2 separate regions of the Homo sapiens genome follow, and region 2 is linked to region 1. The links come from fine-mapping of genetic effects on gene expression. A gene starts in region 1. The other region holds a variant in brackets. All regions are shown on one strand. Distances are from middle to middle. Region 1 holds the start of DDX60L (DExD/H-box 60 like). Region 2 overlaps PALLD (palladin, cytoskeletal associated protein).

The links.
Region 2: its variant is fine-mapped to the expression of DDX60L in whole blood (TOPMed, PIP above 0.99).

What each region holds. Positions count from the first base shown.
Region 1 is chr4:168,478,043-168,483,423 of GRCh38, reverse strand. It overlaps DDX60L (DExD/H-box 60 like), which reads left to right and starts at 2,932. Exons shown (of 38, transcript NM_001012967.3): 1 at 2,932-3,047. RefSeq lists an enhancer at 2,674-2,913.
Region 2 is chr4:168,501,175-168,506,555 of GRCh38, reverse strand. All of the region lies in intron 1 of PALLD (palladin, cytoskeletal associated protein), which reads right to left. The region is part of intron 1 of LOC107986198 (a long non-coding RNA gene); the gene reads left to right. Among named protein-coding and RNA genes, the nearest start is that of PALLD, 6.8 kb to the right of the region's middle. The variant A/G (reference allele first, on the strand shown) is at 2,304.

The DNA.
Region 1 (5,381 bases):
CTAAATCTCATCTGCTGAAAAGACCTAAATGATTAAATCAGGTATAGTTGAGACTTTGGGTATGAACCATCCTGAGGCAAAATTTCTCTCCATATGTGAAGCTTTAAGACTAGAAAACAAGTTATTTGCTCCAAAAATACAATGGTGGAACAGGAATAGGGTACCAGTTACAGATATTCCTGTTCACAAAGGGAGAAAATGGAAGGAGAAAAAGCCAAGAAATTTCAAAAATCTGCAAGGCTAACTCCATAGGTTTTAAGGCCTGTGAATAACCATTTGTGTCTCTAGGCTCTGCCCTCAGAGTCATCCTTCATGAAAGATAGCACAAGTTTGGGGCTGAATAGTTTTATCAGACTGTTTATTGCTTATGGAATTTTGGGAGTCCTATAACCGTCTTTCATTTTATTCTCTCTCTGTACCTTTCAGTTCAAGCTGGCAGTGTTTCTGCTGATATTCTCAGAAATCTTTTGGATTTCCTGTGTATGTCACAGAGATCTTTTTGAAGCACTAGCAAAAGGTTGTCCAGCTGTACTCATGACTTTTTCTCCAGAGTACGTTTTCCCAGCAGTGAGTCTCTTACTTTTACCATCCTTTGCAGTCTTGAAATCCTGATAATTTCCCACATTATCCTTGTCCTGGTTCCTTTTTGATAATAGTCCTTCCCTCTTATAAGGACCCTTCTGATTATATCAGGTCCCCAGATAATCCAGGGTAATTTCCCCATCTCAAGATTCTTAGGAATATCTGCAAAGTTCTTTTTGCAACAGAAGATGACATATTTATAGGTACAAGGATTAGGACATAGATGTCTTTGGGAGACCATTATTCAGTCTACCACAGCTGTAAATAGAGAGAGGTTAACAATATAGGAATGGAGTGAGATTCCTGAGGAAGCTGGAGGTAACCAACTCAAAAGGGAGTGGTTATATTGTATGTGGAGCATGTCATGGGCTTCTTGGACTAGATGGAGGTGTCAGACAGTTAAAAGGAGTCTCTTTAAAACAGATATATTCTTAGTGGACTTGAAGAGAACAGCAAGATGCTGTAGGGTTTTAAGGGCCACTGTAAAAAAGATCAGGAACCTATAGTCATAAACAGTAAATCTGAGGTGAAAAATATTAGACAATTTCCTTCAATGTCCTGGTAAGGGCAAAAAATGGTTTACTAGATTGAGGTGATCAAGTTGCAGTGAAGGTGCAGAGGAAAGAGAGTGGATGAAGCAGTTGAGAATGTTAGTGAGAGGAAGGTTCAGTGCCTGTTCACAGAGTTGATCCTGGGGAGGTGAAAGAGTGGGGCTCCTAAGGAGACTGAGAGATTGAGGCAAGGGGGAAGTCTCTAAAAAGTGGAAATGGAGTTTATGATTTTCAAGTTTCTGGATAATGTCCAGGCTGGAGTTATGGTAACATATTATTAAAGTGGAAGAGAACTGGATATTGATTTGGAGTAGAGTCTGCTTATGTGCATTGTACATATACTTTGCGGTGGGAAGTGGGATGTGTGGAGTTAACATCTAGGGAATCCCCACCTGATACATCTATATCTTTAAGAGAGAAAAACAACAGCAGACAGTCAATTATATTAAGAACATGTAGGGCCCACTTCTACAACCAAAAGAGGAAATCCCCATTAAATTGTATGTGCTTTGGGGGAGGAATAATGACACTGTAGTATTTAAAAGAACTGGAATGAGATAATATATACAGAGAATATTGTAGATATTATCTTTGGAATTAAATTTTGAAGTCTTGGCTACCATTAACTACCTGTAGGGTCATCGACAAGTAATTGAATTCTCTAAGCCTTATTTACCTCATCCATAAAATAGCAACAGTAAAGTTGCTCATGGGATTTCTGTGAGATTTAATGTGATAATACATGTTAAGGGCTTAGCCTATTGCCTGGCACATAAAAAGCTCAATGAATGCTTTTACAGCAAAGCCCAATTTTCTGCTGCTAGCAAATGCATTCTTATGATACAAAGGTCCAGTATCAGATGCTAGAGAGGAATTCATCTGAGATGAACTCATGACTTAATCATGAGTCATTTCAGGTTCTTTCTCAATGTCATCCTCATTGAGAAAGAGAATCATAACTATTTTCAACCAAACATAAAATTAAAGAAAAATCCTGACAGAAGTGAGCAATGTTTTCACCTCCTTTTCGAAGCCACTTTATATTCCAGAGTCTGAGAAAAAACTTTGTTCTTCTGGGCTCTTTCTATTGTGAACAAGTCACTTCCACCCTTTCCTTTTCTTGAAGACAGAACTTCCGGTTTCGATTTCTCTCCATTTATTACCCCATGCCGTTACTGGGGCACCCTCACCACCACCTTGAATCTCAATATATTCTGCACATGCATAACGTCATGGAATTAAGCGTCTGGAGCACTAAAGACCATGATGGGCTGGGGTTGAAACTCGAATTTCAAACATTAATGAGCTTGATGACAAAACTAAAGAGCATTCTTCTTCTCAATTTAAATTCTCTGTGATAGATGATTGGTCTTTCAAATGTTCACACTGGACAGTTATACTATTGGAAATTTTTCATAAAATGAACTTCTTAGGACAGAAACTCAAAGCCCCTAATCCTTTTTTACTCCATTTTTGCCTGTCCAGTACCTTGCCAGAAAAGAAAAACGCCACACCTCACCGCAGACTTTCATAGTGCTTAGCGTGCTGCATTTACTCTCAGCCTCAATTCCTTGTTTAGAGTCCCAGATTTCTCTGCTTTCTTTCCCTTTACAATTACATGCATGTCCCAGATAGCATATCATCGCTTCTACTATTACTTCCCTAAGATTCTCAGAGTAAACCAATGCAGACCTATATTCTACCTCCAGAAAACTGCGGAAATCGAAAAGGCCTCGCGGTGGAGAAAAGAAACCGAAACTAACTCCCTAGATAAAAACTCAGGCGCTGGCTGCTGTGTGGCTCAGAGCGCCCAGTCCGACGCCAGGCTCTGCGCTCGGTCTCCTCTGCTCCACCTCCTCCCCGCGGGGCGTGCAGCTCCGAAGCTCTTTGGACCTAGCAGGTTCGGCGGCCGGGGTGAGGATTGCGGGTGACGTCGGGTGTCGCTAGGGACCCTGGAGCGGAGCTGTCCCGCGGGGGTTCTAGGATTCCTTCAACATCCAGATGGACCGGGCGGGGAGGTGGCCTGGTGGCTTCGTGCGCGCCGGGCGAGGGAAGCTGGGGCGCCCACTGGGCTCGGGCGGCAGCTTCGCGGAGAGGTAGGGAAGAGGGACAACCACCGTGAGAGAGGAGAGTGCTCAGGCATTTAACGGGTCCTCTGCACCCGAGGGGGCCTGGGGATCTGGGGTGCTGAGGAGAAAGTAAGGGTCACCACATCTGAGCACAGCCATTCGAACCTGGACATTGACAGGCAGCAAGCCGCTTCCCTTTTTTCCGTCTTGTATTTAAGCTTTTTTTTTTTTTTTTTTTTTGAGTCAGTCTCGCTCTGTCGCCCAGGCTGGAGTGCAGTGGCGTTATCTCTGCTCACTGCAACCTCCACCTTCCGGGTTCACGCTATTCTCCTGCCTCAACCTCCCGAGTAGCTGGGACTACAGGCACCCGCCACCACGCCCGGCTAATTTTTTTTTATTTTTTATTTTTTATTTTTAGTAGAGACGGGGTTTCACCATGTTAGGCCAGGATGGTCTCGATCTCCTGACCTCGTGACCCGCCCGCCTAGGCCGCCCAAAGTGCTGGGATTACAGGCGTGAGCCACCGCGCCCGGCCGGATTTAAGCTCTTAATAGCGGAAATAAGGTTTTACTATTTCTCTGGAAAGGTACTTTGTTCTTTTTTCCCGCTTCTCTTTTGTTTACAAAGTTACATTGATAAATTTATAATAAACTTCTCAAGGTTTTCCATAATCAAAGAAGCTGACATCATCCGTGATGGGGCCTTAAGGATTATGAAAGCTCCTAATGACTGCTAGAAAAAGCGGTCAGAACCAAACAGAAGCAAGTCCTTTAAAGACACAATAAGAAGTCCAAACCATAACATCAACGACATACAGACCTTCATGATTTCGAGTGTTCTCCTGAAAACAGTAACATACCATTCAATCTAAGATTTGCAGTTTGAAGTTTGGTGGAACTCAGGTGCTGAGAGTTGAGGGTACTAAAATAAATGAGGGTGAGTTATGCTTCCAAGGCTCTTCGCCTTCTATCCCAAAGATATTGGGGATAGTTTAGTGTGAATCCTTCCTGATACTCTACAAAGAGACAAGTTTTTGTCTATAGCTCCTATCTCTCTATCCATCCATCCATCCATCCATCCATCCATCCATCCATCCATCATCCAGCCATCCAACCATCCGTCCATCCATCGATCCATCATCTGTCTATCTCTAGATCCATACACTTTAAAAGATATTTTGGCTGTCATACTGGTATGCTTTTCTTGGTTCATGATTTATTGGTACCTGTCAGTCTTACTTAGTAATTGCTGTATGATACCCCATGGTATGCTGGGTCATAATTGATCAGTTTTATTTGAAGCAGAAGAGAAAGACATAAAACAAAAATTAAATGCCCTTCTCTACTACTTTCCCCTTCATACTTAGTCTCACAGTTTTAGTTCTCCTGAGGCGTTACCACTCCAAAGATATACATTTCTTTCTTGGTTGCTTATAAATTATATGCTTACAAATCAGTCTTTTGTTTTATCTACTTTAGACAGACTCCGACGACTCCCTGTGAAAGAAATACTTCTAATATGAATTATATATTTTTAAAAATTCTTCTCAGGATTAGCTTTATGGCTTTTAATAAAATACCCATGTTAATTATCATCCACGGCTATGTTGATGTGGGTGGAAATCTCTGTGGTTTTCCCTGCTGCAGGCTCATTTTCTGCTTTGTAAGTATGGAGACCTGCTGGTTGATTTACTGATATCACCCTTTTTTATAACCTGCTGCTTGTTTTACTGATGTAACCATTTTTAAGGCAGCTCATAGTTTATTTGGAAATACAATTCTCTAAGAAATGTATCCAGCTTCTTATGCTCTAGTTAGTTCCCTATGCCGTTAATTACACCCAGAGAGTTTCTATTTTCATCCTAATTCCCTCTCAAATTAGCATAATCTGTCTTAAGTTCATTTGAAATGATAGTCTGGCCTGGGAGGGTAACACCTCCACCTAATACTTGCAGCAAGGCTAAGTCCTTCTGTTTAACTGAGAATTCTTTATGAGTCTTTGTTGAGCAAGGTGTTTTTTTTCTTTTTTTTTTGTCCTATCACTTTTTATTTGCAGTACAGAAGCTGTCACCTGTGCGACCCAAATTTCTTGGCTCCCTTCCTTCTTCTCCTCTTTTCCCCTCCCCTCCCCTCCCCTTCGCTTCCCTTCCTTTTTAAAATAGGGATGTGGTCTCATTTTG
Region 2 (5,381 bases), 23 kb before region 1:
ATGATTTATAGGTCAGCTCTCAAAAGATGTAAGAAGAAATGAGTTATTATAGGACAAACGGAGTATGAGGTGTTCAGCTTCCAGTAGGAAGGGGGCAGTTCTTTCATTGTTAAAGGAGAGAAGTAACAAAGGGTGTATGTGTGTTGGGGCATGGGGGGCGGTAAGAGAGAAAGGGAGAGAGAGAGAAACATGAGATTCTCTGCAAAATTTGTAATAGAAAGAAAGGAGAGTTCCCAAACTGAGACTTCTGTGCATTGGAGGTTTATGAGGACAGAAGATGATTTGAAATAGCTGTTGTAGAAAAAGGGGGAAGGAAGTTTTGTAAGAAGGATTTATGGGTAGAGGTGAGGGCCTGGTTGAAGTTAGATGTGATGTATTTATAGTGTCATTAATCTGTGTGATTGTGCAATTCTCTCCACCAGAGCTCAGCCATCCAGGTGAAGGTACAGAGATAGATGATCCCAGTTTGACATGCAGGTAAAATGGGAGGGAAGTGGGCAAGGCCATTGAAAATATGGTCAAGGAATAGGTGGCCTTTGACATATATGCTGGGTTGGAATTCATGGGTAGGAGTTTGAATGTAGAGATTGTCTTTGTTTTTTTGAACCAATGTCAGAGTTGAGTAGTTGCAACAGAGACTATATGGCACATGAAGTCTAAAATATTTACCTGCACTTTTACAGGAAAAAATTGCCAACCCCTTCTATAGAACATTAGCTACCTAATGACTTCATATAACACATATAAAGGCAATTAATGATCACGATGATTGATAATGATAATGGCTAATAATGGACTGCTTACCCTGCGGTGGGCATTGTGCCCAGAGTCATCATGTAGATTATTTCATTTAAAACCCTCACAGCAGCCTCTGGTTTAGAAAGGAGGAAATGGAGGCAGAAAATCTGAGTGGGAGAACCAAGGTTTAAGCCCAGGGAATAACTCCAGAGCTCATGTTCTATGCACTTTACCATCTTACCATTGTAGTTTTCATAATTGAGAATCCTAAGCAATGTATCAAACTAACAAAACTGTGGATCAGAAATCAGAGTTCTGCTATTAATTCAATTGCTTTTTAGTTCCAAATGAACATAATATGATACATTTTAAAACTTCACAAGGAGCATTATATAACAAAGCTTAAAGCAAACTTCTGAATGATGAAAACATTTTCAATTCTTAATGTAGGGAGTGTTTGCTGGAGGCAGATTATCTCACCTGCTTATTAACTCATATTTTGGTTTTAAAGAGGCGCCATCTGACAGGATCCAGTAGTCAGGATTAGGTGTAGCTTTAAAACTGCTTGCACATTGAAAAAGAAAATAATAGTTCTATGGCATATCTGGTTCAGGCTTAATTTGCAAGCCAGTTATTGCCGCGGGAACATGCACGTGGTCTAGGGAAAATGCTCATTCAATGAGGATGAACAAGGGCGGTTTCCAAGCGGGCCAAGTTCACTGGAAAATTGTGCTTCAGAGATTTCCATGTCAGTCAGCACTCCAAAATGAAAAGGTCAAAATCAAAAGGAATGAAACACAATCACAAACATCTCCATCATTTGCCTGAGATTTCATGTTTTCTGTCAAACAGTGCTCTTGGTAATTCTATGCCGGTGTGATAGACACAGAAGATGAAATAGACTAAAAAGACCCACTAATACTGCTGTTAATGAGTGAAGAGGAAATGAGGTAAACACCAACGCCATTAAAGTGGTTCTACTTTAGTAAGTAGCATTGAAAGATTTTGAAATTTTGAAGAATAAAGGATTCTTTGGCATCTTTAAATTGTCCTGTCCCCTGCCTCCTCACTTTTCTCAGAAGGAATCTGAATTTCCTAGAAATTCTTCTGTCTTCTTCTTTTTCTCATCCTTGTCTTATCCATCATCTCCAGCTTTAGCAGTTTAGCTTAATTGTCATTTTCCCTAAAACGCTCATTAGCCACAGCCATTTTTTTTTTTTTTTTGAGTTGGAGTCTTGCTTTGTCGCCCAGGCTGGAGTGCAGTGGCATGATCTCAGTTCACTGCAAGATCCACCTGCCGGGTTCAAGAGATTCTCCTTCCTCAGTCTCCCGAGTAGCTGGGGCTACAGGTGCCTGCCACCACTCCCAGCTGATTTTTGTATTTTTAGTAGAGACAGGGTTTCACCATATTGGCCAGGCTGGTCTTGAACTCCTGACCTTGTGATCTGCCCACCTTAGCCTCCCAAAATGCTGGGATTACAGGTGTGAGCCACCATGCCTGGCCAACCACAACTGTTTTTTAATTTGCTTGAAGTTGCGTAGCATTATGTTCTTCACCATGGAGG[A/G]AATGACTCTTCCTTGGCCTCGCCCATCTTACAGTCATGCTTCCTTTCTTCTACTTCCCTTTCCTGGAATAGTAAGTTGAACATGAAATCAACGGAACAACTGCTTAGTTGTGCAAGAGAAGCTTCAAGGAGGACAAAGATGAGGCAGGCGTAGTTATTCTCCTTAAATGATCTTACAATCCAGTAGGAGGGATTAGACAAGAGTAAAAAATAACTCAGTTACAAGGAGGAGCGTGATAATTTCTATTAAAATAGTTTCAACAAATTGCAGTAAGGGATAAAAATGGTAAGAGAGATCATAGGTACAAATTGTGTCACGTCACTCTTTTGGTTTTTATTTTTTTCCTATGATGCTCCCCGGCTGATGAGAAAAGTTCCAAAGCACGATGTGCAGGTTAAACATACCCGTGGACAGCCTGAGCTGATGGAAATGCTCCAGCCTCACCCTCTGTCATCACCAACACACATGCACTCAGGCCTCCCTGGCCCACTCACCATTCCTCAAACAATTCAGATTCTTTCTGGTTTTCACACCTTTGCACTTGCTGCTCCTTTTGCTTAAAATGTGCTTCCTTTCTCTTTTTCTTTTTCTTTTTTTTTTTTTTTGAGATGGAGTCTCGCTCTGTTGCCCAGGCTGGAGTGCAGTGGCTCCATCTTGGCTCACTGCAACCTCCGCCTCCCAGGTTCACACCATTCTCTTGCCTCAGCCTCCTGAGTAGCTGGGACTACAGGCGCCCACCACCATGCCCGGCTAATTTTTGTATTTTTAGTAGAGACAGGGTTTCCCCTTGTTAGCAGGATGGTCTCGATCTCTTGACCTTGTCATCCACCCGCCTTGGCCTCCCAAAGTGCTGGGATTACAGGCATGAGCCACTGCATCCAGCCCTCTTTCTGTTTTTCAAACTCCGGTTCATCCTTGAAAACTTTCTTAAATTTTACCACTTTTTGGTGCTTTCTAACAGTTCCCCAATCAATATAATTTGCTTCTTCTTCCAAGCATGTTACTTTGCATTGCGTTTCTCACAGCAGTCATCATATTAAATTACAAGTATTTGTTTAGAGAATGCTTTCCTCATTCAACTGTGAGCCCAATGGAAGCAGGAGCTGTGACTGGCGTCTTTGTATGGCAAATGCTTAGCACACTGGGTTACAGCAGCTGATGGAGAAAAGCTAAGAAATACCGGGTGTTTGAAATGTGGTTTGAGCCCTGGATAGGATTTGACACACATGTGAACAAAGGCACGAGGCAGGAAATGTTCTGATGACTGATTTGCTTTCAGCCTCCCAGAACCTGCTGCGACATTTCTCTGGGACATGCTCTCTTCAGCTAAGTGTTATTCTGCTCTTTTGAGTGAGGGTCTCATTCTGTCTCCCGGCCTGGACTGCAATGGCATGATCATAGCTCACTGTAGCCTTGAATTCCTGGGCTCAAGGGATCCTCCTGCCTCATCCTCCTGAGTAGCTAGAACTACGCGTGTGCATCGTCAGGCCTGGCTAAATTTTAAAATATATTTTTGTAGAAACGAGGTCTCCCTTTTTCGCCTATGCCAGTCTCAAACTCCTGGACTCAAGGGCTCCTCCTGCCTTGGCCTCCCAAAGTTCTGGGATTACAGATGTGAGCCACTGAGTGCAGCTAAACATTATTCTGCTCTTAAACTAGGTTTTTCTTCTGTTTTATCAACTGTTGCTTGTGTCCCGGGCTCTGTTTTCTGGTAAAAACTTGATAGAGTAATCAGTGCTAAATGTTAGTGTATACATATAACACATAACTGTTTGTGTCTACATATAAAATACACTTTACCTGCTCATTTCGCTAAAGCAAAATCAGTCATAGGTCAGACATTGTGTTAAAAAAAAGTATCTATAAAGACGTGGATGTCAGTCTTTCTCATTACCCTCAAAGAAAGTTTCTCATGAAAAAATTTGGAACTAGAAAAGCATTTATTCTATTTTCTGGCAATTCTGTTAGACAAAGAATTCTGTAAACTTTGATGACTCTTTCACACGGATACTAGCAAGCTCAGGGTTAAATTTCCAGTCATAGAAATTCAGATGTTTTTAGCTAAAAAAAAAATTTATTTTGCTTACTTTTCTCATTGTTTTATTCAGTCAGCATTTATTTATTGAGTGCCTACTATGTGCTAGGCACCTCTTTCATAGGCCAGGGACATAGCTGGAAAGAAGATAGATTCTCTGTCCTAGGGAGTTAAGATTCTAAGAAGAGAAAGGACAAAGGTAGTAAATTGAGAAAACATTTCAAGTTCAAAGCTTTTTATACTTGGTTTGATCTGCATTTTCTTAATTGATTTTGGGCAATTGTACTATGCTTTTATTGCATACAGCCTCAAACTAGCTTTGAAAGTTGTTAGGGTGCAGACATATAAGATAAAATGAAGTGCACATTCGCATGTTAATGTTCACATCTACAGACCACTGTTGTTTTGGGGGGCACACCCTTGGCGGGGAGGGTGGTGAAAGTCACAAGAGGAGAACATGCTCAGGTCAATGGTCCTTTAGGTTCCTTCAGAGTGTACCATGGGGGCAGCTGCCATGTCACCTCATGGCGCTCTGAAGGGAAATTCTCCCAGGTGAATTTCAACATGTGCCTAATGCCAAACTCTTCATCTTAAGCAAACATTTGGTGAAGCAAAGGTTTGGGAGGGTTGGCAAATATTGTGAGTCATTACAGAATCCTATCAACCTTGAATTGTCAACAGGCAGCTTATATCCTTATAAGCATCTTGGCTTATCCTAAGCAAATATTGCTTTCAAAGGTAAATGTCCACGGTGACCTATTTTGTTAACTCCCTGGGCATATCTCATTCTTCTTCTTCTCTTTTCCTTTCTTTTCAATTTTGCCCCTGCTGTAGTAGTGCGATGGTGTGATCATAGCTCACTGCAACCTTGATCTAGTGGGCTCAAAGGATCCTTTTACTTTAGCTTCCCAAGTAGCTGGGACTACAGGTGCATGTCACCAAGTCCTGCTAATTCTTTTTTATTTTCTGTAGAGATAGGGTCTCCTTTCATTGCCCAGTATTGTCTTGAACTCTTGGCCTCTGCAATCCTCCTGCCTCAGGC